7 linked regions of the Homo sapiens genome follow. The protein of the gene in region 6 purifies or fractionates together with the protein of the main gene of each other region. This does not show direct contact. Each region holds a gene or a part of one and is shown on either strand. Other genes may lie near its edges.

The links.
Region 1: the proteins of PJA2 (region 6) and RHEB purify together in Homo sapiens (affinity purification with mass spectrometry, with the first as the bait; one large-scale study listed by BioGRID). This does not show direct contact.
Region 2: the proteins of PJA2 (region 6) and LEF1 purify together in Homo sapiens (affinity purification with western blotting, with the first as the bait; one study listed by BioGRID). This does not show direct contact.
Region 3: the proteins of PJA2 (region 6) and ACAA2 purify together in Homo sapiens (affinity purification with mass spectrometry, with the first as the bait; one large-scale study listed by BioGRID). This does not show direct contact.
Region 4: the proteins of PJA2 (region 6) and CPT1A purify together in Homo sapiens (affinity purification with mass spectrometry, with the first as the bait; one large-scale study listed by BioGRID). This does not show direct contact.
Region 5: the proteins of PJA2 (region 6) and ACAT2 purify together in Homo sapiens (affinity purification with mass spectrometry, with the first as the bait; one large-scale study listed by BioGRID). This does not show direct contact.
Region 7: the proteins of PJA2 (region 6) and SDHB purify together in Homo sapiens (affinity purification with mass spectrometry, with the first as the bait; one large-scale study listed by BioGRID). This does not show direct contact.

The regions. Positions count from the first base shown.
Region 1 is NC_000007.14:151,467,896-151,471,395, forward strand, and holds part of RHEB (GTP-binding protein Rheb), read right to left. Parts: coding exon 3,499-3,500; intron 2,758-3,498; coding exon 2,676-2,757; intron 1-2,675. UniProt on the Homo sapiens protein: Small GTPase that acts as an allosteric activator of the canonical mTORC1 complex, an evolutionarily conserved central nutrient sensor that stimulates anabolic reactions and macromolecule biosynthesis to promote cellular biomass generation and growth.
Region 2 is NC_000004.12:108,074,933-108,078,432, forward strand, and holds part of LEF1 (lymphoid enhancer-binding factor 1), read right to left. Parts: intron 3,451-3,500; coding exon 3,288-3,450; intron 1-3,287. UniProt on the Homo sapiens protein: Transcription factor that binds DNA in a sequence-specific manner. Participates in the Wnt signaling pathway. Activates transcription of target genes in the presence of CTNNB1 and EP300.
Region 3 is NC_000018.10:49,789,534-49,793,033, forward strand, and holds part of ACAA2 (3-ketoacyl-CoA thiolase, mitochondrial), read right to left. Parts: intron 2,795-3,500; coding exon 2,619-2,794; intron 2,067-2,618; coding exon 1,937-2,066; intron 1-1,936. UniProt on the Homo sapiens protein: In the production of energy from fats, this is one of the enzymes that catalyzes the last step of the mitochondrial beta-oxidation pathway, an aerobic process breaking down fatty acids into acetyl-CoA.
Region 4 is NC_000011.10:68,754,917-68,758,416, forward strand, and holds part of CPT1A (carnitine O-palmitoyltransferase 1, liver isoform), read right to left. Parts: intron 2,815-3,500; coding exon 2,728-2,814; 3' UTR 1-2,727. UniProt on the Homo sapiens protein: Catalyzes the transfer of the acyl group of long-chain fatty acid-CoA conjugates onto carnitine, an essential step for the mitochondrial uptake of long-chain fatty acids and their subsequent beta-oxidation in the mitochondrion.
Region 5 is NC_000006.12:159,772,045-159,775,544, reverse strand, and holds part of ACAT2 (acetyl-CoA acetyltransferase, cytosolic), read right to left. Parts: intron 376-3,500; coding exon 232-375; intron 1-231. UniProt on the Homo sapiens protein: Involved in the biosynthetic pathway of cholesterol.
Region 6 is NC_000005.10:109,382,475-109,385,974, forward strand, and holds part of PJA2 (E3 ubiquitin-protein ligase Praja-2), read right to left. Parts: intron 1,047-3,500; 5' UTR 960-1,046; coding exon 929-959; intron 1-928.
Region 7 is NC_000001.11:17,020,628-17,023,032, forward strand, and holds part of SDHB (succinate dehydrogenase [ubiquinone] iron-sulfur subunit, mitochondrial isoform 1 precursor), read right to left. Parts: intron 2,104-2,405; coding exon 1,981-2,103; intron 1-1,980. UniProt on the Homo sapiens protein: Iron-sulfur protein (IP) subunit of the succinate dehydrogenase complex (mitochondrial respiratory chain complex II), responsible for transferring electrons from succinate to ubiquinone (coenzyme Q).

The sequences.
Region 1 (3,500 bases), on a different chromosome or scaffold from region 6:
TGTCCTTTATTTTTCCTTTTTTGTTATACAGATTGGAGGTTTCTATGTTGCCCAGGCTGGCCTCGAAAGCCTAGCCTCGCCTCCTTATGCACCAGGACAACAGGCCTGAGCCACCGTGACTCCCAGACCCTGTCCTTGAAATGCAGTCCTGTGGTCATGAAAAACTGCCCCTGTTCTCAGAAGCCCCACAGGAAGTACCCTGTTCTCCTAATCACCAAGAATCCCCCTCCCCCATCACTCCAGTGACTTCCACTATCCCACGAAACCAGAACACACCAACTGCCAGCGTCCCACCACACCACCTTCCCAGCTCTTTCTCTAGCTATCCTGAAGCAACAATTCTCAGCCCCACAAGGGGCCTGATTTGTTGACCCTATTATTACATCTCCCCTGTCCCTTAACCACTTCTTGCTGCTCCTTTCCCTCTCGGTCAGCTCAGACTCAGCAGGCCACCATGGCGCCACTGTACTTCAACTCCCTTCCCTACCAACTGTCGCTGGCACGGTGCCCGCGGCCACACCGTAAACGCTGCCCAGGGAAAACACACACCGCTCACTGCTGACCTCACACCCATGACCAGGAACCTGGCGCAGACACTTGGTGCTGCCTAGCCACCCGCCTGCATCCCTGGATCTGGGCACTCCCCAGAGAAAGCATCCACGCCTTGTCCCTTCTCCTCAAATGTTCCCCGTGCTTACGCTCAGCTGAAAACCTTGTTTTACACACTTCACTGGAAAACAGAAGCCACATTCATGAAAGAACTCCACATCCTCCATCCACCAAGCTGACCCACCCACTTGAATGTGGGCTCCCATCCTCAGCCTTCTGTCCTGTTGGTATGAATGAGGCGTCTGTCCTCCTAGTTAACTGAAGCCAACCCCAGGTCCCACCCCGCTTGTCTAATCTAGGTCACCGGCTTCAGATCACCTGATTGACAGGAAGCAGTGTGTAGAGAAAAAAGGACTAGATGTGGATGAGATCTACAATTCAGTCCTAGTTCTTATACCACGTAAGGTAGTGGGTGATCTTAGAAAAGTCATTTAACTTCTCTGAAACTTAATTTCCTCACTTCTAAAATGAGGCGGTTTAACTACATGATCTGAAGGATACAGTCCATAGGCACTCAATGGATTTAATTCAATTTTTAAAATATAGGTATCTCTTAACTATCTCAATTCTTATTTGAATTCTGTGTATACTCAGAAACTGAGCTGACTTCGATAAATCCCTTGCTATCTGGAACTTGGGAACGAATTACACACATCTGTTTAATCAGTTTTTTTCATCCGCACATAAGAGGACATAACCACATGGATTCACTATCCCTCCATATCCCAACACAGGACAAAGCCAATTTGACTATCACAGGATACTTGGGCTGACGGATAACCCACTGTGCTAAACATTATGAAGGATATTTATATAAATGATACTGACTCAGATCTCAGAACAAATTAAGAGGGCTAAGAGAAGAAACCACAATTTCTTTCAGCTGGATGGATCCAGAGGGGGTCAACAAGAAGGTGAAATCTAGGTGGGGCCTTGAGGACTACAAACCTCCGTGCTGCGGAGAGGGGCGGGGCAGGGAAGGAAGAGTGCCAAGGCTGCTGGCGCCCGGCCCTCCCAGGGAGGAGGCACCACCCTACTATACTAGAGTTTCCTCAGAGAAATGAAAACCAAGTCATCTTACCTGAGGATCAAACACCACCACATGTTGAAAACACATTCAAAATATAAAACCCCACATGAACCTAAGTAGATACTTAGAGAAGGGCTATTTTAAACCGGAGGGGAGCATGAGGAAAGGTGAGACATTTTGAAAGTGGGGTGGACAGGAGATGGTGTGTTTAAGGAAGGGAGCAGTTTGATGTGATGGAAAGTACAAGAACGTGGTGAGAGAAGAAACTAGAAAAGAACAAATTATTGACTGCATTCAGGACCAGGCGAAGGGTTCTATAGAGAAGGGGCAGTTCACTGACAGTTTCTGAGTAGAGGATGATACCATCAGATGTGTATCTTTAGAAAATTAAGGGCAGCAAAAAAAATGTATAGGTGAAAAATGCACTGGGGGCGGGAGACAAGCTTGGTGCCGGGGGTCTAAATTAGAGCAATGGAAGAGAAGGGCTCATACAGGACTGTGAAGCCTCCGGAGGCAGAATCTACATCCTTCCCAGAACATGCCTTTGAAGGCACATCTGCGGGGTGAAATTGGTACTAAATGCTTATAAGATGGTTCTTCATCATTTCTATGTTAACAATTAACACGTACGTCTGACCCGGTTTCATCTAACAGAAAAAAAGCCAGGGGGTGGGTAGTTACAAAATTAGTACTAAAGTGATATAATTCTTTTTTTTTCCCCTGTATGGACTTATTTCTGTACCAGCTATTAATACAAACCAAAAATATATGTTTACAAAAGGTAGTATTTCCTTTACTAATAGTTTCTGTTTATCCTACAAATATCCTAGGTTCCACTGTAAGTAGAATACTGACTGAATTTATAAACACCTAAGTAGTATCTTCCTAAAGCAACACAAAACTTGGTATTAGAAATGGAGGAAGGCCAGATGTTACACAGGAGTGATCAAGACAGAGGTCAAATGCCAACTGCAAGGAACACATCCCTGCGACTGATGAGAACGCAATGCAAAATGAGGTTTATAGAATCTGTTACCTGATTTTCTTTAGCAGAAGATTCCAAAAAAGCTGCATTCCAAGATTCTGCCAAAGCTTTCCCTTCTTCATAACTGATCACCCTAAAGAAAAAATAAAATTCTAGTTAAAGTACTTTGCTCTTCATTATATAAAACATGTATAATTGATTTATGAAACAGGCTCCATTTTGGTCAATTTCTTTCTCATGAAGCAGAACCATGCCCTGGCCTAACATTAGCATCAAGAATGTAACACAGGAGTGTTTTAATTACGCCTGAGCTGGGGAACAGAATAGACATTGCTTTATGGGATTATCCATGCTCCAGCAAACCTTCCAGCTCAGAGAACATGATCTTATTTTCCAGTACTCCCGTATCTGTAACAATTGACTATTTTACAGCTAGGTTGTAAGCACCCAAGGCCAGGGGAAATTGTGAAAGAGCCTGAAAGCTCAATTCTCTTGCATGCAGGCTGTAGAGTCTCTTCCTCTCTGACATGAAGCTGCCTGGGCAGGGGACATCTGCCTCCTTTGCTCCTCACTGTAATCCCAAACCCTGGTACTCAAAAACCACTTGCTGCATAAATGAGCACTATGTCTTTTTAGAATTTGCTTTATGCAAAGTGGCAGATAACCTAAAGGTAGTTTCCTATAAAGTTTGCTCTCTCTTTTCTAGAGGAATGTGAGATTTCTATTCCACTTTTGCTTCTGCTGCACACGACCATAACACCTCTGAACGGATAAAAATGCTACAGCTAAAAATATTCTTGACATCAGAACAATAATTAAAATGATACTTCAGTGACTAAATCATCTTAGATTTGACTTTATAAAAGCTACATACCT
Region 2 (3,500 bases), on a different chromosome or scaffold from region 6:
CTCAAAAAAGAAAAAAGAAAAAACTAAGAGTTGCATACAAGCTGAAATAAAAACATCAGCCCTTCTTTTCCTCTGATTTCTTCTTTTAAAGAGTCAGGGAAAATGATCATCAGTTTTTAAGGCGGAGTTCTTCCAAGATGATGGGAATCACTCATCTGCCATGATCTGGCTTGGGAAAGCATTGTAATTATTGTTATTAAGTGTCTAAGAATCCACAGGGAGATAGGGCATTGTACACAGGACACCAAAAAAGCTATAATCTATCACCACATCCTCCCCTGGAAACCCTGGTGACTTGCAGATTGGAAATAGCTGCATTTTGAGGCTATCCAATGGGAATCGATAATGTAAGAGGGCCTGCTTCCCTCCTGTTCACATGGACTGGAAATCTCCTAAATGTTTTCTGTTATAAATGCTCAAATTTATTAGGTTCAGAACAGACCTGGTAAAATTATCATCGACAATAGCTAACACATGATCCTCTATGTTTCACAAGGGTTGTTAGATCCTCCTCAACTGAATGTTCATTTGCCAATCATGAATTTCTTGAGAGGTTGCAAAAACAAACACAGGGTCACAAATTAAGAGGCTACCACACAGATATGAAGAGCATCAACAAATTAAGATGAAACATTTCTAAAATTATAATGATAACGTGACTATGGTGAAAATGTAATTTAAATTAGAGAAACTCAAACTTTTCTTACCACTCTTCAGCCATCTAACTGAAATCACTTCAATCCCATACAAAGTACTTGGAAGGACTGACTATGTATGTCTTTTGGCTGACAGTTGGATAAACAATCTTAGAGTGTCTATCCTAGTTGTAGCCTGCTGCCTGGTACATAACAGGGGCTCAGAAAAATATCATAGCATTGGTGAAAGAATGAATGAAAAGAAAAGGGCAACCCAGAAACCTGGCAGGTGTACACTTGGAGATTTGGAGAACAGTCTTTCTAGAATCAAGACTCCTCAGGATCATATACATTCTTCCATGTAAAGCCTCATGGTAGAACAGCTCTGCTTCTGTCCTGGAAGGAGTGGCCACCTCTGTTTGCCAGGACGGTCCCCCAAAGGCCTTGCTGTAGCTCCCTAAAGAGCTAAACGCTTTCCTGTTTCAGAGGCGGCACACACATGCTACTCCATCTGCATGTGGGGGAGTCTACCTCTCCCCATTCGTCTCTACTTACTCTCACATCTCAGCTTAAATACAGTTTCCTCAGAGGGGCCTGCCCAAGCCCCTACTGTTCTTTCTCACTGAATCTTATTCCCTACATTCACAGTATTTATCATAATTTTTATTACATATTTATTGGCTATTTATTTGTCTAATGTCTGTATTCTGTCATAAAACTTGAAGCTCCAGAAAGGGGCTGTACCTATTTTGGCTAATAGAGGCCCTAACAATGATTTATAGATCTGTAAATTCTAGGTGGATATTTATTTAATTTTTTGAGACAGAGTCTCTTTCTGTTGCCCAGGCTAGAGAGCAGTGGCACAATCTCGGCTCACTGCAACCTCCGCCTCCCAGGTTCAAGTGATTCTCCTGCCTCCTGCCTCAGCCTCCCGAGTAGCTGAGATTATAGGCATCCACCACCACACACTCAGCTAATTTTTGTATTTTTGGTAGAGATGGGGTGTCACCATGTCAGCCAGGCTGGTCTTGAACTCCTGACCTCAGGTGATCTGCCTGCCTCGGCCTCTCAAAGTGCTGAGATTACAGGCATGAGCCACCGTGCCCAGTGGCTGCATCTACTTTATTCAGCAATTATTACCTAATCTCCAGGCATCATGCCTGACCCAAAAGGATAATAAATATCTGTTTAAAGAATGATAATGGGGCTTTAGGAGGTCGAGGTGGGTGGATGACTTGAGGTCTGGAGTTCAAGATCAACCTGGCCAACACAGTGAAACCCTGTCTCTACTGAAAAAAAAAATACAAAAATTAGCCAGGTGTGGTGGTAGGCAACTATAATTCCAGCTCCTCAGGAAGCGGAGGCAGGAGAATCACTTGAAGCTGGGAGGCAGAGTTTGCAGTGAGCCAGGATCATGCCACTGTACTCCAACCTGGGTGACAGAGCAAGACTCATCTCAAAAAAAAAAAAAAAAAAAGAATGATAACAGGGCCAGAAACGGTGGCTCCCACTTATTCACCCAGCACTTTGGGAGGCCAAGGTGGGAGGTTTGCTTGAGCCCAGGAGTTTGAGACCAGCCTGGGCAGCATAGCAATACCACATCTCTACAAAATTTTTTTTTTTTAATTAGCCAGGCATTGGCCACTGTCCCGTCTAGCAAGTGAGGAGCCCCTCTGCCTGGCTGCCCCATCTGGGAAGTGAGGAGTGCCTCTGCCTGGCCGCCCAACTGACTGGGAAGTGAGGAACCCTTCTGCCCGGCCACCCAACTGACTGGTAAGAGAGAAGCGCCTCTGCCCGGCTGCCGCCCTGTCTGGGAGGTGAGGGGCACCTCTGCCCGGCTGCCGCCCCGTCTGGGAAGTGAGGGGCACCTCTGCCCGGCTGCCGCCCAGTCTGGGAAGTGAGGGGCGCCTCTGCCCGGCTGCCGCCCCGTCTGGGAAGTGAGGGGCGCCTCTGCCCGGCTGCCGCCCCGTCTGGGAAGTGAGGGGCGCCTCTGCCCGGCTGCCGCCCCGTCTGGGAAGTGAGGGGCGCCTCTGCCCGGCTGCCGCCCCGTCTGGGAAGTGAGGGGCGCCTCTGCCCGGCTGCCGCCCCGTCTGGGAAGTGAGGGGCGCTTCTGCGCAGCTGCCGCCCCATCTGGGAAGTGAGGGGCGCCTCTGCCCGGCTGCTGCCCCATCTGGGAAGTGAGGGGCGCCTCTGCCCGGCCTCTGTGCAACCCTCCAAGTGTGAAGTGACAGCCTTGTGTGTGATCTTCCTGCCCTCCCCAAGTTTGCATTTTCAACATTAAAGTTTACTTTTTAATTAAAAGTTTTAAATTGGAAAAAAAAAATTAGCCAGGCATGGTGGCACAACGACTACAGTCCCAGCTATTCGGGAGGTTGAGGTGGGAGGATCGCCTGAACCCAGGAGGTCAAGGCTGCAGTGAACTATGATCATACCACTGTACTCCAGTCCAGCTTGGGCAACAGAGTGAGACGCTGTCTCAAAAAAAAAGAATAACAGTAAAAACAGTTATCAAAATTCTTTAAAATGCATCATATCATATCTTGAAGTGCAAACACATTCTATGACCACCTGATATGGGATTAAATTGGGGCAGATTTTCATGAAGCAGTTCCATGGCTACCATGAACATTTACACATGACTCGGCTACTTACCCTTCTGCCAAGAATCTGGTTGATAGCTGCACTTTCTTTTAGAGTACACTCAGCAACGACATTCGCTCTCATTTCTTTCATGTATAACATAAAAGCATTCAGAGGCTTCTTAATGTGAGGTCTTTTTGGCTCCTGCTCCTTTCTCTGTTCATGCTGAGGCTTCCTAAAAGGTGGTGGTGGTGGTGGTTAGGGGAAGGGGTTGAAGGAATGAGG
Region 3 (3,500 bases), on a different chromosome or scaffold from region 6:
AAGGAAAACAACGCTTTCTTGGTTCACTGGCTATGCTAATCTACCAGAACCTATTAAATAAAGTTAAACTGAAAAAGGAGTATAAAATAGCCAACCCATGTCACATACATTTGTTTGATCATCAAAAGCATCTAGGTGTATGCAGGAAAAAAACCAACTCTGCTCTTGGGCTGGGCATGGTGGCTCACGCCTGTAATCCTAGCACTTTGGGAGGCTGAGGTGGGCGGATCACCTGAGGTCAGTAGTTTGAGATCAGCCTGGCCAACGTGGAAAAACCCTGTCTCTGCTAAAAATACAAAAATTAGCCAGGCGTGGGGGCGGGCACCTGTAATCCCAGCTACTGGGAAGAATGAGGTTGCAGTGAGCTGAGATCACGCCACTGCACTCCAGCCTGGGTGACAAAGCGAGACTCTGTGTCAAAAACAAAAAACAAAACCAACTCTGCTCTTGGGCTCCACTCTGGACTTACTGAAACAAAATCTAAGGGTGTGGGGGTTATGAGTGGATTCTGACAATCATCTGAGGTTGGGAACCACTACCCTAGATATCAAAATAATAAATGCCATAACAACATACGGATGTTTAATTTTTCCACCACCTTCCATTTCTAAGACAAAAGTTATCTTTTGCCAATAGTGGATAGCCAAAAGCTAATAAGCTTAAGATTGACTTTTCATATGTGTCAAAATATCTTGCAGTTCTTGCTGACATAAATTTGAGACACATAGTGAAAGATGACAAAATATGAACATGCCAGCTTTTTTTCTTAGGAACTCTATACAGAGATATGTCTTCTCTGAGGGACATGGCAGCAAATATGGTTGAGTATTAATCCCAAGTCAGTGTAAGTGGTATTGTTTGAGTAGAACCTGTAGGCTTACACTGAAGGATCTCTGAGATGGCAGGTCAGTAACAGGTTATCCTCCTCCTCCTCTCTTGGAACCCACCTCAGAAAACAATTTAGTTATTCAAAAAAGGGCTAAACAATCTGAAATCTATACCCTAGGGCAGGCTTTTCCTTACAGTGGGAGGTTATATGTAGGTGGGATATATCAAAGTTACTGAGCACCAAATTTTATTTTTCTAAGTAAGGCACCTAATTGGTTCCCTGTTCCCCCAGAGAATGACAGGAACTATTAAAATTCAGCATCGTGTGTGGTTCCTAGGAGTGCATCCAGCAAAAAGCTCTTTGTTCTACTTCTAAATCAAATATTTTAAGCCAAGACTATACATGTTTATGGACTTCCAAATTTTTTCCATCTAGCATTTTACCAATCTAATTATAAGTCTTTATTTTGCTAATACTCACCTGAGCAAGAGGAATATTAATTTGACTTCCTGAGACTATGCGTTTAACTCACAGTGAAGAGAGCACTTGATTTCAGAGAGACTTGGATTCACACCCTGGCTGTCACTTACTGATTTGGAACCTTGTAAGACAACCTCCCTAAGCCTCAATTTTCTCATTCACAAAGAAGTCTCCCTTACTGGAGACGTGGGAAGACTGAATGTGTGTAAAACAACCAGCAAGGAGCTGCGATACCACCTTCTCCATACAGCCTTCTCTGTTTCACCCCAGGATTTCTCCCATCTCATAATTTCTTTTATCTTGTCAGGATCACGTAATTCTTCTGTTATTTTCTGTGTTGATTTCTAAACTCTCAAAGGAACAATAAGATATAATTACTGTGTGTTGATTTTTTAAATCTCAAATGGACACTAAGATATGATTACTTCCTCCATGGAGTTTACACGGTCTTGGTTTTTCTATTGTGTCTAGGACAGTTCTTCATAAAGATTTTTTATTTAAACTGATTACCAATCTTCTTTTCTCTACAGGTGACCTTGGTTTGGCCACTTTTTCAGGACTCTGAATGCCAAAGAAGACTTACCTCCAGAAATATTATAGAACCAGTTTGTTTTACTATAAACTTACCAATACCCATGATAGAGGGATCACATCCAGATACAAAGTAGCCCACAATTCTTGCCAGTGGTGTGAAGTTATGTTTCTTAACAGCATCTTCACTAGCTATGATAACAGCTCCAGCACCATCAGCTACACCCTTGAAAATAAAAATACTAGATTAACTAAAGGCTAAAATAATCCAGTTAATCAAAGTTTGAACTAATGGACTAGTAGTATTAGGAATATGGCAGTACATAGGAAGCCAGTGCACAGTGTGAGATACAATTAGAAAAGTGGTACTGTGGTGGATGAAGGAGATTTTTTAAGGCACAGAATACAACTTTACTAAAGAACAAGGAAAAGGGTGTCAAGGAAAAACTTTTATCTAGATGTGAGTAGATGTAAGAAGAAATACGATAAACTGTATGCATGAGAAAAAAAAAAGTTTGAAAACCAAAATAAGCCAGATAGATTTGTTTCTGAAATTTCTTAGTTCTGAAAAAATTAAGAAATCAGAAGAGTATTATATAAATAAATATGAAAAGATTTTGTGTGGGTCTATGAAAACCTAAATTAATTGAATATGAACACTATTAGTTTAAGCTAAACAACTAAAGACTGGCATAAAAAGTATTTACAAGATACTTCATGATTACTTTTGTTGAACACACCAGGAAGAATTCAAGCTAATCTGTGTGGTGATACCAACCGATGCATTCCCTGCAGTAACAGTTCCATCTTTCTTGAATACTGGAGGAAGTTTCTGTAACTGTTCCAGGGTGGTTTGGGGCCGAGCATGCTCGTCTACCTGCATTGTCTGTTTTCCTTTCTTTGTCTTCACTTCAATTGGTGCCATTTCATCATTAAAGTAGCCAGCATCATTAGCTGAAAAATAGTAGAGAGACTATCATAAGAATAAAAGAGAGAAACATGAAAATAAATCAAACATATTATTCAATTTAATTTCTGATCTACCTTTTCCTCACAGTCTACTTTAATATTGAGTCTTTATTAATTTTTGAGATGGAGTCTCACATTGTCGCCTGGGCTGGAGTGCAACGGCACAGTCTCGGCTCACTGCAACCTCTGCCTCCCGGGTTCAAGTGATTCTCCTGCCTCAGCCTCCCCAGTAGCTGGGATTATAGGTGCCCACCACCATGCCCGGCTAATTTTTTTTATATTTTTAGTAGAGATGGGGTTTCTCCATGTTGGCCATGCTAGCCTCGAACTCACCACCTCGTGATCCACCCTCCTTGACCTCCCAAAGTGCTGGGATTACAGATATGAGCCACCACGCTCAGCCTGAGTCTTTACTATTTACTTACACAACTTACCTTCCGTATTGGAGGATTTACGATACCATCATGTGTTTATGTAGTTGCATTTTGCATCTTTTAAAAATTATAGAGTCTTTACTATTTACTTACACAACTTACCTTCCGTATTGGAGGATTTACGATACTGTCATGTGTTTATGTAGATGCATTTTGCATCTTTTAAAAATTATATTTTTAAAAATTATATTTTTTTAACCACAATTTTTTTTCACCAGGTACTGCTAAGACTGTTAGCAGCATCTGTCTGTTTGCTA
Region 4 (3,500 bases), on a different chromosome or scaffold from region 6:
TAACCTACATTCACACTGCATTTCTAAGATTTACATCCAAAGAGCATACTGTATTTACATGCACCGGTCAGCCCAAGATAACAAATTCAAACCATGGCTGCGTTAAGACAATGGTTTGTTCCAATTAAATTAAACAGATAATACTCTTATCACCCCCCTTGGACATGTACAATAAGACCCCTCTTTCTCCCCTCAAGGAATATAAAATTGCATTGATAACTGCACTGATGAGCAACAATTACATTTGAAACATTTAAAACCTGAGAGAGAAACCCAAATATGTTTAAGCACTCACGTCTACACTCAAAATGCCCTGTGAACTCTAGTGTAACACAGATTGCTCAGTGGTCAACAGTGCATGATCTAGCTGGCTCTGATAGGGACTGACGCCGGCTGCTGGCTTTTAACGGGAAGTGCTATTCTTGCCCAGGGCAGAGAGAGCTACATCCCCGCTGCCTGCTTGACGGACAGTCAGGGGCTTTTGTTGTTGGTTTGTTTTTGCTTTTTTTTTTAGACGGAGTCTCGCTCTGTCGCCCAGGCTGGAGTGCAGTGGAGCGATCTCGGCTCACTGCAAGCTCCGCCTCCCGGGTTCACGCCATTCTCCTGCCTCAGCCTCCTGAGTAGCTGGGACTACAGGCGCCCGCCACCACGCCCGGCTCATTTTTTGAATTTTTAGTAGAGACGGGGTTTCACCGTGTTAGCCAGGATGGTCTCCATCTCCTGACCTCGTGATCCGCCCGCCTTGGCCTCCCAAAGTGCTGGGATTACACGCATGAGCCACCGCGCCTGGACGCTTTTTTTTTTTTTTTTGTCTTTTGTTTTCATTTTTTCTTGCTTTCAGGAGAAAAAAAATCTTTGGCCCATAAAGGTGGGATTTTTACATCATGAAGTATACATACATAAAACATGCATGTGGGCCGCGCATGGTGGCTCATGCCTGTAATCCCAGCACTTTGGGAGGCTGAGGCAGGTGGATCACCTGAGGTCAGGAGTTCGAGACCAGCCTGACCAATATGATGAAACCCCGTCTCTACTAAAAATACAAAAATTAGCAGGGCATGGTGTTGGGCGTGTAATCCCAGCTACTTGGGAGGCTGAGACAGGAGAATCGCTTGAACCTGCAAGGCAGATGCTGCAGTGAGCCGAGATTGCACCACTGCACTCCAGCCTGGGCAACAAGAGTGAAACTCCATCTCAAAAAAAAAAAAAAAAAAAAAGGCACGTGTTCTCCGGCAAGCACCTTCCATCGACTCCAACAGTTCAGCCATCGCTGTTGTACTATCGGGGTGCAGCACTCTGAAGGAGTCAGGCCCAACTAGAACCAAGTGGTCAAAAAAATAAATACACAATTTAAAACAATGGACAGCTAAGCTTGTCATGACAGACAGTGGGAATTTCATTCCATGATGCTTCATTTTTGCATTAAATACTGAAGATGACTCAGTGCATAATTGCTTTGTGGTCCATGAGACGCTTTCGTGAAGGCACTCCTATCTGAAGGACAGGCTGGGTGAACACCTAGCACTGTCACTTGAGACATCTTGGCTGGTCACCAAGGTGAGCCGGCATACTGTCTCCATCACCCTCTGGTGAGTCTTTCCCCTCACCGGGTGGGAGGAGAAGGCCATCCCTTGGGGTCGTGGAGCCACTCTCTCCTCACCACGGTGGGCTGCCCTCCCCTTCCTCACTTGCTAGTCCCCGCTTGGTGGCCGATGCCCTGCCCTCCTTGCTGTCACTTTGGGAAAGAGATCCTCCTGAGGCACGTGTCATGTTTTATTCTTGAGTGAATTATCTGACCATCACGGCCCTTGCTCCCCTTTTATGACATGTGCCTGTTATTTCTTTTGTTGCTTATGATGACAAGAAGGCAGTCCCGGGAGGGGAGTCTGGCACAGCTGCCCTTGGGAAGGAACTGGTGTTTCTGAGGGGGAGGGGGCTGGTGGGGTGTAGCAAATGCTTATGTACGGTTATCCATACTCAGTCAATTGTGAAGGGAACAGTATACCCACAATTCCACCCAAAGACTCTACAAAATAAATCTTTCTCTCCATCTCCCTTACATTTAGGGCCTTTCATTTTTAAGGCACTGGGTTGTGAAGACTTGAAGACATACAAGGTCAGTAAAACTGAAGACCTTGCATCCTGCTTGCTTCAAATGTGGAGAGGCAAACACAGGCTACTGGACCAGACGGGAACGGTTACCCACGGTGACAAAAGCAGGTCTCCAAAGCACAGCATTTTGGTTAGTGCATTCCAGATGTGTTAGCTACAACTGGGGACACCAACTTGAATAACACATTTTTCTTTTAACAAAACAAAAGTTTACCCTGCTTGGATGATGCTAAATGCCCTTAAGCACTAGGCCTTCGGTTGCCACTGAGAAAGCACACCATTTCCATTCCACTGTGTGTGAAGCCACAACCCTACTAATTCCTTCATTAACTCAACAAGATTTGCATCCCTTAATAAATCCAAGCCGATGCGGAGACATCAGGGGAGACTTTATCAGATGTCCCCCAAGGGAGGGCAAGTCTGGAAGTAGTGGGGTTATGCTTCACAGGGGAGAGATACTGTTCTAGGAAAAAAAAACACCCACATTTTCTGGAAGGAAAACTGAGTTTTTTTAAGAGCAGTGTTTCATCCCGAGCTAAGGTCAGGATTAATGCCTATTTTTCATTTGGTTTGCATCAGAAGAGCTCGTTTTCCTTCCCAGCAGCTCCAGTGGAATTACTTTTTGGAATTAGAACTGAGACCAAACAAAGTGATGATGTCAGTCATTGCTTCTTTCAGGTGCCTTCCAAAGCGATGAGAATCCTTTCATGTAAAAACAAAAACCAAAAACCTATTAAAACGTGGCCATCCCCACATTTCAAGCTTTTTCATTTGCAATCTGACCCAATGTTTCATTGAAATTCCTTTCTGCCAGTTCTCTAAGATCTGACCAACGTCTTAAAGCTTAACTTAGACATTCCAGAGAAATGCTGAGGGTAAAGAGATGACAGCTGATGTGTTTGTGCGGGTGTGTTGTCGATCTAAGCCTTCCCCTAATGCCAATGCGTTTATCCCACGGAAAACACAATGACCATCCTGAGCATGGTGGCTCATGCCTGTAATCCCAGCACTTTGGAATCGCTTGAGCCCAGGAGTTCAAGACCAGCCTGGGAAACATGGTGAAACCACATTTCTACAAAAAATACAAAAATCAGCCAGGTGTGGTGGCACTCCCCTATAGTCCCAGCTACTCAGGAGGCTGAAGTAGGAGGATCCCCTGAGCCCAGGAGGCTGAAGCTGCAGTGAGCCGAGATCACACCACTGCACTCTAGCCTGGGTGGCAGAGTGAGACCCTGTCTAAAACAAACAAACAAACAAACAACAAAAGAAAACCGCAGTGAACAAATAAACCCCAACTTCCTCTGTTAACAGCGACAGTGGCATGGGTTGCCAGGCTATGTACGACAAGGAAAGCAGAATATAAATAAGGGCAATGTGCCATGCTAGGG
Region 5 (3,500 bases), on a different chromosome or scaffold from region 6:
GGTCATGGACGCTCTGGAACCAAGAGTGCTTGAGTGCTGACATAGGTCCCATGTTACCGTGTCCTGTAAACCCAGCATACCCCCTCCCCACATTCATGTATCCAGGACATATATTTGCAACCTGAAAAACATAACTAAGATATAATTTCTAAAGATTCCTATGTATTACTCTTTTAGATGTTACTCTTACCTATAAATAGGTTGATGTTTAAACCACTATGATATACTCACCTTTTCTAGTTGACACCAAAACTGGTACAATCTCTTTGTCAAAATGGCCAGCTTTCTGTGCATTCTCTGTCCTGTTCTGGGACAGAACTGCAACCTTGTCCTGATCTTCTCTACTCACTTGCCATTTTTTGGCTACATTTTCAGCTGGGAAAGGAGAAAAACAGCAAAAAACTAACATTTTCATGAACTGGCATTTGATAGCTCAAGTCGTCCACATTTGACCAAGCACTGACTGACCACATATGCTAGCAGGCTCATGGTGGCCTGTGCAATGCTCTGTGTGGGGTGGCCCTGCCTGCCACTGGCAGTTGGTTTGGAAATGTTGCAGTGACTCTCAGGAGTCATACTTCTCTCCTTCCCTTTCTATATAATTGTAAACTTACAGAAATTTCCTTCACCCAGAGTCACCATTTATATTTTCCCTCCATTTGCTTTAATATTTTCTTTCTGAACCATCTGAGAGAAAGTTGGAGATACAATGCCTTCTTACTCTTAAATTTTAATTTCAGTGTATACTTCCCCAAAACAAGGCCACTTTCTTACATAAGCACAGTTATAAAACTCAAGAAATTGGGCCAAGTGTGGCGGCTCACACCTGTAATCCCAGCATTTTGGGAGGCCGAGGTGGGAGGATCACTTGAGCCCAGGAGTTTGAGACCAGCCTGGGCACAGCGAGACCCTGTCTCCATTAAAAATAAATTTAGCCGGGCATGGTGTGTGTGCCATGTAGCTAGTAGTCCTAGCTGCTTGGGAGGCTGAGGCAGAAGGATCACTTGAGCCTAGGAGTTCAAGGCTGCAGTGAGCCATGATTGTGCCTCTGCACTCCAGCCTGGGTGACCCTGTCTCACAAAACAAAACAAAAATCAGGAAATTTAACATGAATCAAACACTATTATCTAATCCTTGGTCCACATTCAAATTTCACCTATATTTCAGTAATGTCCTTCTAGCTCCTTTATTTGAGCCAATAAAGAAGCATGCATTGTACAACTATCAATCTCTCTAGTTTGCTTTTGTCTGTAACAGTTCTTCAGACTATGCTTCTTAAGCTTGATATTTTTGAAGAACATGGGCGAGTTCTTTTGTTAAGGGTCATCAATTTTGATTTGTCTGATGTTTCCTCAGAATTAGATTAAGATTCTGCCAAAAGGCAGGTATACCACTGAATGATAGTATGATTTTTCTCAGTGAGTCTTATTAGGACACAAATGACAATCAGTTTATCCCAGGTGATGTTATCTTTGATCACTTGGTTAAAATGGTTTGGTATTCACCAGGTTTCTAGCTTTTAAAGGTACCATTTTTTCATTTATAAGTAATCAATAATTTATCAGAGGTTCTTTTTGGATTATCCAAATATCTTCTTCCCCATCATATTTTCACCCACTAGTTTTAGCATTCATTCATGACTTTCTAACTCCAACATTCCTTCTATTGGTAAGATATTAATTGGCATTTTACCACAAAGAAAACCTTTTCCTTTTCTCCCATTTATTCAGTTATTTATATCAGGATGGACTCATACATTTTCATTTTATTGAATAAGTTATAACTCATTACTCTCATTACTTACTTTGATGCTGAAATTTTTCAATACTTGGGCAGTTATAACCCATTACTATCATTACTTATTTGCACGCTGAAATTGTTCAAAATTTAGGCAGTTACAACCCATTACTATCATAACTTATTTGCACGCTGAAATTGTTCAAAATTTGGGCAGTTACAACCCATTACTATCATTACTGACTCTGATGCTCAAATTGTTCAAAATTCCACTACAGGAAAGTGGAAGCCCCGTAGGCTGCCTCCTGTGTGCTTTCAACATGTCCCTGAGCATGTCCTTAATTTTTTAGCATTTTTTCCCTAGCCTTGGAAAGGGCCATTTCTCCAAACAACCTTAGTTCCTTTTAGTGGATAAATGTATTTAGAAGATCTGGGTGTCAGGACTGCTTGTTGTTACTGGTTTGTCATTGTTTCTAGGTCTGTTCAGTAGAAACTTCCATATGTATTATTTATAATTTTACATATACACACACACTCATGGTAACACCTTGAGTTCATACTGCATTTTGAGTTCTCCAAAATGCAACCTAACACCACAAGCTACATTCTTCTCCCTTTCCGTATTTGTAACTCTCTTCTACAAATGTGAGAATTGGCCAGGTTTGGTGGGTCACACCTGTAATCCCAGCACTTTGGGAGGCTGAGGTGGGAGGATCCCTTGAGCTCAGGAGTTTGAGGCCAGCCTGGGCAACATGGTGAAACCCCATTTCTACAAAAAATACAAAAAATTAGCCAGGCATGGTGGTGAGTACCTGTGGTCCCAGCTACTCAGGAGGCTGAGGTGGGGGTTGCAGTGAGCCAAGATTGAGCCACTGCACTCCAATCTGGGTGCCAGAGTGAGACCCGTCTCCACACACACACACAAAAAAGTTATTGCTTTGCTTTCTATGTCTTGTCTTTACTTATCAAGCTGTTTTTCTTTCTTTTTTTTTTTTTTTGTTGGATGATGTCTCACTATGTTGACCAGGCTGGAGTGCAGCAGCTACTAACAGGCAAAATCAACCATAGTATACTATACAACCTCAAACTGCTGGCCTCAAGTGATCCTCCCACCACAGCCTCCCTAGTAGCTGGGACTATAGGCACCTGCCACTGCACCCTGTAAAAGCTATTCTCTTATATATACTTCTAGAAGCTTTACATTTTTTGCTTTTATTTTTAAATCCACGATTTATCTCAAATTAGCTTTTATATAGGGTGTGAGGTAGGGATCTAGGTTCATCTTTCCCATGTGAGTAATCTGTTATTCCAGCACCATTTGTTGAAAAGACTTTAATTTCTCCATTTCATTCCATTGATGCCTTTGTTGAAAACAAGCATAAGTCTGGGTCTATTTCTGAACTCTGTTCTCTTTCTCTGTCCTTATGCCAAAACCACATTGTCTTGTTTACAACAGCTTTATAGGTAATGTTAAAATCAGAGCATGTAAGTGCTATTTTCTGACTTCAAAATTGTTTTGGCTATTCTGAGTGCTTTGCATTTTATACAGTATTTATTTACACTATTTATTTATTTATTTAGAGATGGAGTTTCATTCTTGTTGCCCAGGCTGGAGTGCAATGGTGCAATATCTCAGCTTACTGCAACCTCCGCCTCTTAGGTTCAAGCAAGTCTCCTCCCTTGGCCTCCAGAGTAGCTGGGACTACAGGCACCTGCTGCAACACCTGGCTAATTTTTTGTAGTTTTAGTAGAGATGGGGTTTC
Region 6 (3,500 bases):
CTGCTTAGTCAATTATACATTACATGTACTACACAGCAACTAAACAAAATATTTTCTCACAGCATATGGTATAGTCAATAAATGCAACAGTTGCTGGGCATGGTGGCTCATGCCTGTAATCCCGGTACTTTGGGAGGATGAGGCAGTCGGATCACTTGAGGCCAGGAGTTCGAGATCAGCCTAGCCAACATGGCGAAACCCCGTCTCTACTAAAAATACAAAAATTAGCCAGACGTGGTGGCACATGCCCATAATTCCAGCTACTCAGGAAGCTGAGGCATGAGAATCACTTGAACCCAGGAGGCGGAGGTTGCAGTGAGCCAAGACTGTGCCACTGCACTCCAGCTTGGGTGACAGTTCGAAACTCCATCTCAAAAAAAAAAAAAAAATGAATAAATGAATGAATGAAACAGTTACATAATTTCTTAGTTGTATTAAAATAAGAAATATAATCACTTCCAAGAAGGAAACAGAAACAAACATGTATTTATAATACACGCACATATCGAGTATAAATAATATCAAGTGTTACACTTATTTAATCCCATCAGTAATCTTGAGGTGGATATTGTATTCTATTTTAAAAATTGAAAAATTAAAGTTAAAATTAAGTGTTGGATAACTTGTCTAATAATCCAAAAGTATGACTCCAGAACCAATGCCCTTAACAATTCTACCAAAAGAATAGTCTCCGAAGTGGAAAGCATAAAGCTTTCCAAGCTAAATGGGTATGGAAAGAAAATACCAGAATTTCTATTTTTACCTATCAAAAATTAGAAACTAAGCTTTACAAATATTCAATATATGGATCAAAACCAGCCTTTTAGTAAGACCACAGGTCAGATGATCATATGTCACTTACTGGTACTCAAGGTACCCAGAGGAAAAAACAAGAAGTACTCAATGTAGAAGAACTGACTTTCCTTACCTGCTGGCTCCTTTTCAGTGTACTGTGACATATATGGCAGCGTCTGTGTGACCAGTTCAGTAGAATTATAGATGTGATTTAGTTTTTATTCACACTATGGACAAGCCGCAGAAGATTCCTACAAAGAAACAATGAATTGAACAATATATTAATAAAAGCACAAAAATAGCAAAACTGATACTTCTGCTCCTCCTAGTGAAGTCTTATAATAAAACTTAGAAAAATACAATGTGATGTAGCCAGCATGGTGGCAAATGCCTGTGATCCGCCTTAGATTACAGCACTTTGGCAGGCCAAGGCGAGCAAATCAGTTTGAGCTCAGGAATTCGAGAACAACCTGGCCAACATGGTGAAAGTCTGTCTCTGCAAGAAATACAAAAATTAGCCAGGCGTGGTGGTGCACACCTCTAGTCCCTCAGGAGGCTGTGGTGGGAGGATTGCTTGAGCCCAGGAGGTGGAGGCTGCAGTGAGCCGAGATCATGCCACTGCACTCCAGGCCTGGGTGACAAAGTGAGATCCCGTCCCAAAAATAAATAAAAACAAGAAAAATACAACACAATTTGACAAGCCAATCAAAAACTCTCAGAAATACCAAAATGGCTATGTGAAATACAGATTTACATCTGCTCTTGATAAACCTTGCCTAAGTATATATCATCCTTAAGACTGTCAATGACAACAACACATACATAATTTGTAAGTAAACAAACAAAAATATCAGAAGTACTGACTCAGGTATGTAACCAAACTATTTGGGAGTCTACTACACTGTGCTATCATTGCTTCTCTGTCAAGCAGTAAAGTTCCTTTAGCCCTGGAATTGCTAAAAGGTAACTGTAAGAATACAAACTTCATTTTTTAAAAATGTGTAATGGCTTATAACAATAATTAATGTGTGTAAATAATGATGTATTTATTCTTTGCAATAGTCAGTTGATCAGATAATTTAATCCCAAATAAGAACCTATTTTCAATCAGGAAAAACTACAATTTATCATGGAACAAATACAAAAAGAACTTCTGTTTTGAAATTAATGCATTTATTTACTATTTGAAAAGTACTATTTGAGAAGTTGCAACCTGTGGTTTTTTTGAAAGTTTGGTTAAGTTTTTATTTAAACACCTTATTTATTTAAACACTTGAGCTACTGCTAATTGCTCATCATTAATGCAATAGCTCTGCAAATGAGTTTAATTTATATGTTACCTGTCTAATCACAGACAGATATATATTAACATACGTAAGAGTACAAACCCACATTCACCCATATAATTTATAAATTCAGTAACAAGTTATGATCCTTTAAAGTATCTGAATCAAAAGAGGCTGTTAGCAACAGCTAAAGAGAAAAGGAATATAAAAATAATAATAATCTTAACATACTGGCAAAAACATAGGTGCTAATTAACAGTGTTTTAACTTTTTTTTTTTTGAGGGCGAGTCTTGCTCTGTCGCCCAGGCTGGAGTGCAGGGGCTTGATCTCGGCTCACTGCAACTTCCACCTCACGGGTTCAAGTGATTCTCCTGCCTCAGCCTCCCAGTAGCTGGGACTGTAGGCGTGTGCCACCATGCCCGGCTAATTTTTGTATTTTTAGTAGAGACAGGGTTTCACCATATTGGTCAGGCTGGTCTCAAACTCCTGACCACGTGATCCACCTGCCTTGGCCACCCAAAGTGCTGGGATTACAGGCATGAGCCACAGTGCCTGGCTGAAATGTGCGTTTTATTCTGAGATGGAAAACCATCAAAGTTCTGACCACAGAAGAGATATTTGACTTCTGTTTTAAGAAGAATGCTCTGGCTACTGTATTGAATAGCATGAAGAGGAATGAGGTCTAAAGCAGGGAGCACTGTTAAAAAGCTATCAAAATAATACTGGTAAGAGATCATAGTGGTTTGGACCAGGGTTAAAATAAAGATGGTAAGAAATGACCAGATTCTGGACATATTGTAAAAATACAATCAACAAAATTTACTAATATAGGATATGAAAGAAGGTCGAGGTTGACTCCAGGTTTTACAGGCTGGGCAATGGGAAAAATGGAGTAAATTTCAATTAATGTAGGAAAAATTGTGGAAGAGCCAGATTTGAAGAAAATATATTCAGTTCAGTTTTGGATGAGTTAAGTTTGAGATATCTATTAGACATTCAAATGGAAATATTAAATAGGAGTCTGGTGTTGACTGAAGAATTATGAGCTGTTAGTATAATTTGGGAGTTGTCAGTGTATAGATTATACCAAAACAGGTATGAACTTGGATGAGATCTCTAGGTGTACATGGAGAAGTGAAGTTAAGCCCTGAGAAAATCAAATATGAAGAGGCCAGGGAAAAAGAAGCAGAGATTGAGTATCCCTTTTCCAAAATGCTTGGAACCAGAAGTGCGGATTTGGGATTTTTTCAAATCTTTGAATATTTGCATATACATAATGAGATATCGTGGGGATGACATCCAAGTCTAAACAGAAAATTCACTTGTTTCCTACACATCTTACACACACAGTCTGAAAGTAATTTTATACAATACTTTTAATAATTGTGTGCATGAAATAAAGCTTCTGTTAAGTACTG
Region 7 (2,405 bases), on a different chromosome or scaffold from region 6:
TATCTCTGTCTCAAACAAGCCCAGTACTCATGTTTTTTTAAAAAATAACATAAGGTGACATTTATTGGGTGCTTACTATGTGCCAGGCACTGTTCCAAGCACTTTTATAGCATAACTTGCCTCAGAGGTCAGTAGCTATTCACAGGCACAATCATGGTAAACCACAGTCCTGGGGACAGGACCCAGATGGAAGCCCAGGCAATAGGGAGCTGAAGCCTGTGGGCTCCCCCAGCGAGGCCACTGGAAACACAGAGGGTTTCCAGGCAAAAAATAAGTGAATTCTACAGCTTGGATTTCATGTTTTCAAACACACAGTGTGATCTTTTTTTACGGCTAACTGGCCACCCTACAGTTTTCCACCTTGCCGCCCACTGACTCACTGCAACTTTTGAGTGAAATCACCCACAGTCTTTGCTCGGAGGGCAGCCGTGTTCTGAACCACACAGCCCTAGCCCTTCCCTGCCCACTGGGCAAGGCTGACTGGACCAGGGCTGACACCTGCTATGGTTTGAATGTGTCCCCAAAAGCTCATGTGTTGAAAACCTAATCCCCAATGCAACAGTATTGAGAGGTGGGACCTTTAAGAAGTGATTAGATTATGAAGGCTCTGCCCTCACAAATGGATTGCCATTATCATAGGAGTAAGTTCCTGATAAAAGGATGAGTTTGGATTAGTCAGGTGTGGTGGTGTGTGCCTGTAGTCCCAGCTACTCAGGAGGTAGGAGGATCACTTAAGGCCAGCAGTTCCAGGCTGCAGTGAGCTATGATTGCGCCACTGCACCCCAGCCTGGGCAACACAGTGAGACCCTGTCTTTTAAAAAAAACAGATGAGAGGGGCCGGTCGCGGTGGCTCACGCCTGTAATCCCAGCACTTTGGGAGGCCAAGGTGGGTGGATCACCTGAGGTCGGGAGTTCGAGACCAGCCTGACCAACATAGAGAAACCCTATCTCTACTAAAAATACAAAATTAGCCAGGCATGAGTGGTGCCTGCCTGTAATCCCAGCTACTCGGGAGGCGAATGCAGGAGAATCACTTGAACCTGGGAGGCGGAGGTTGTGGTGAGCTGAGATCGATCGTGCCATTGCACTCCAGCCTGGGCAACAAGAGCGAAACTCTGTCTCCAAAAAAAAAAAAGGCTGAGCTTGGGCTCCCTTTCTCTTGCCCTTCTGCCTTTTGCCATGGGGTAATACAGCACGAAGGTTCTTGTTAGATGCTGGCGCCAGCCTCTAGAGCTGTGCGTCAAATAAACTTCTTTATAAAATTACCCAGTCTGAAATTCTGTGATAGTACCACAAAACAGACTGAGACAGAACCTGGCCAAAGGGCAGCCGGTCTGTAGCCAGCTGTGGCCTCTGATGTGCAGGCATGAGAAGGTGAGCTGGGCCAATGCGACACCCTCTCAGGAAACTGTGCTGAGAAGTGCTGGGAGGCAGGCGGGTGGCTGAAGCTGGAAGTGTGCTGGGAGGCAAAATCCAGGCCAGAGTGAGCCAAAAGCAGCAGCAAATGCGAGCAGGAAGAGGAACGAAAGCCAGAGCTTTGAGTCAGAGAAAACCTCCACAGAGCCGAAGGAAAGAACAGGCTGCTAGAGAGCAGAGCAGATTAGCAGCTGACATCGCGAGAAAGATGGAGAAGAAATGAAGTCCTCACAGCTGCCCACGTTCCAACGGCTTTCGCTTTCTGTTTCCTGGGAAGGTTGAACGCAGGTACCTGCTCATGGGTTCCTGTGCATCCTTAACTCCCACAATGTCCCTGTGTAGCCTACAAATAAAGCCTGCTCCTGAGGTGGCCCGAGTCAGTCTACTCCTTGCAACTAAGAGCCAAACTAGCCCCTAGGCTCACACTGAAAGGACAGGCATATGCTGGTCCCTTTCCTTCTCAAATGACTAGGGTTGCTCTCTGCCAATCACCTCTTTGTGAGCACATGCTACTTCTGGCGTGTCAGCTCTGAGGCAGAGCTGAGGGTCACCAGCCCCACGTACCTTAGGACAGGTCCTTGTGCAGTTCATGATGGTGTGGCAGCGGTATAGAGAGAATGGGTCCTGCAGCTTGGCCAGGCGCTCCTCTGTGAAGTCATCTCTGGAGTCAATCATCCAGCGATAGGCCTGGAAAACCAGGGATGATTAGCTGAGCTGCCAATCAACAGGCCAGAGCGGCACCCTGGCTCAACTCAAAGCTCTGGGAGTGCAGAGGAAAGGGAATTCACTCAGCTTAGATGCCTCATCTCCATACTCTTTAATTCTTGTCCATCTTTCAAGGAAAGGTTCCCAACACTTGTAGCTTCACTTGATTAATGGTCCCTGCAAACCTTTGATCCATACTGCACCTGGTACCCGGGTGCTTAATTATACACACTGGGTATCATCTCCTAATTATTTCACATTGCTCAATAGCTTCCTACCCAGCT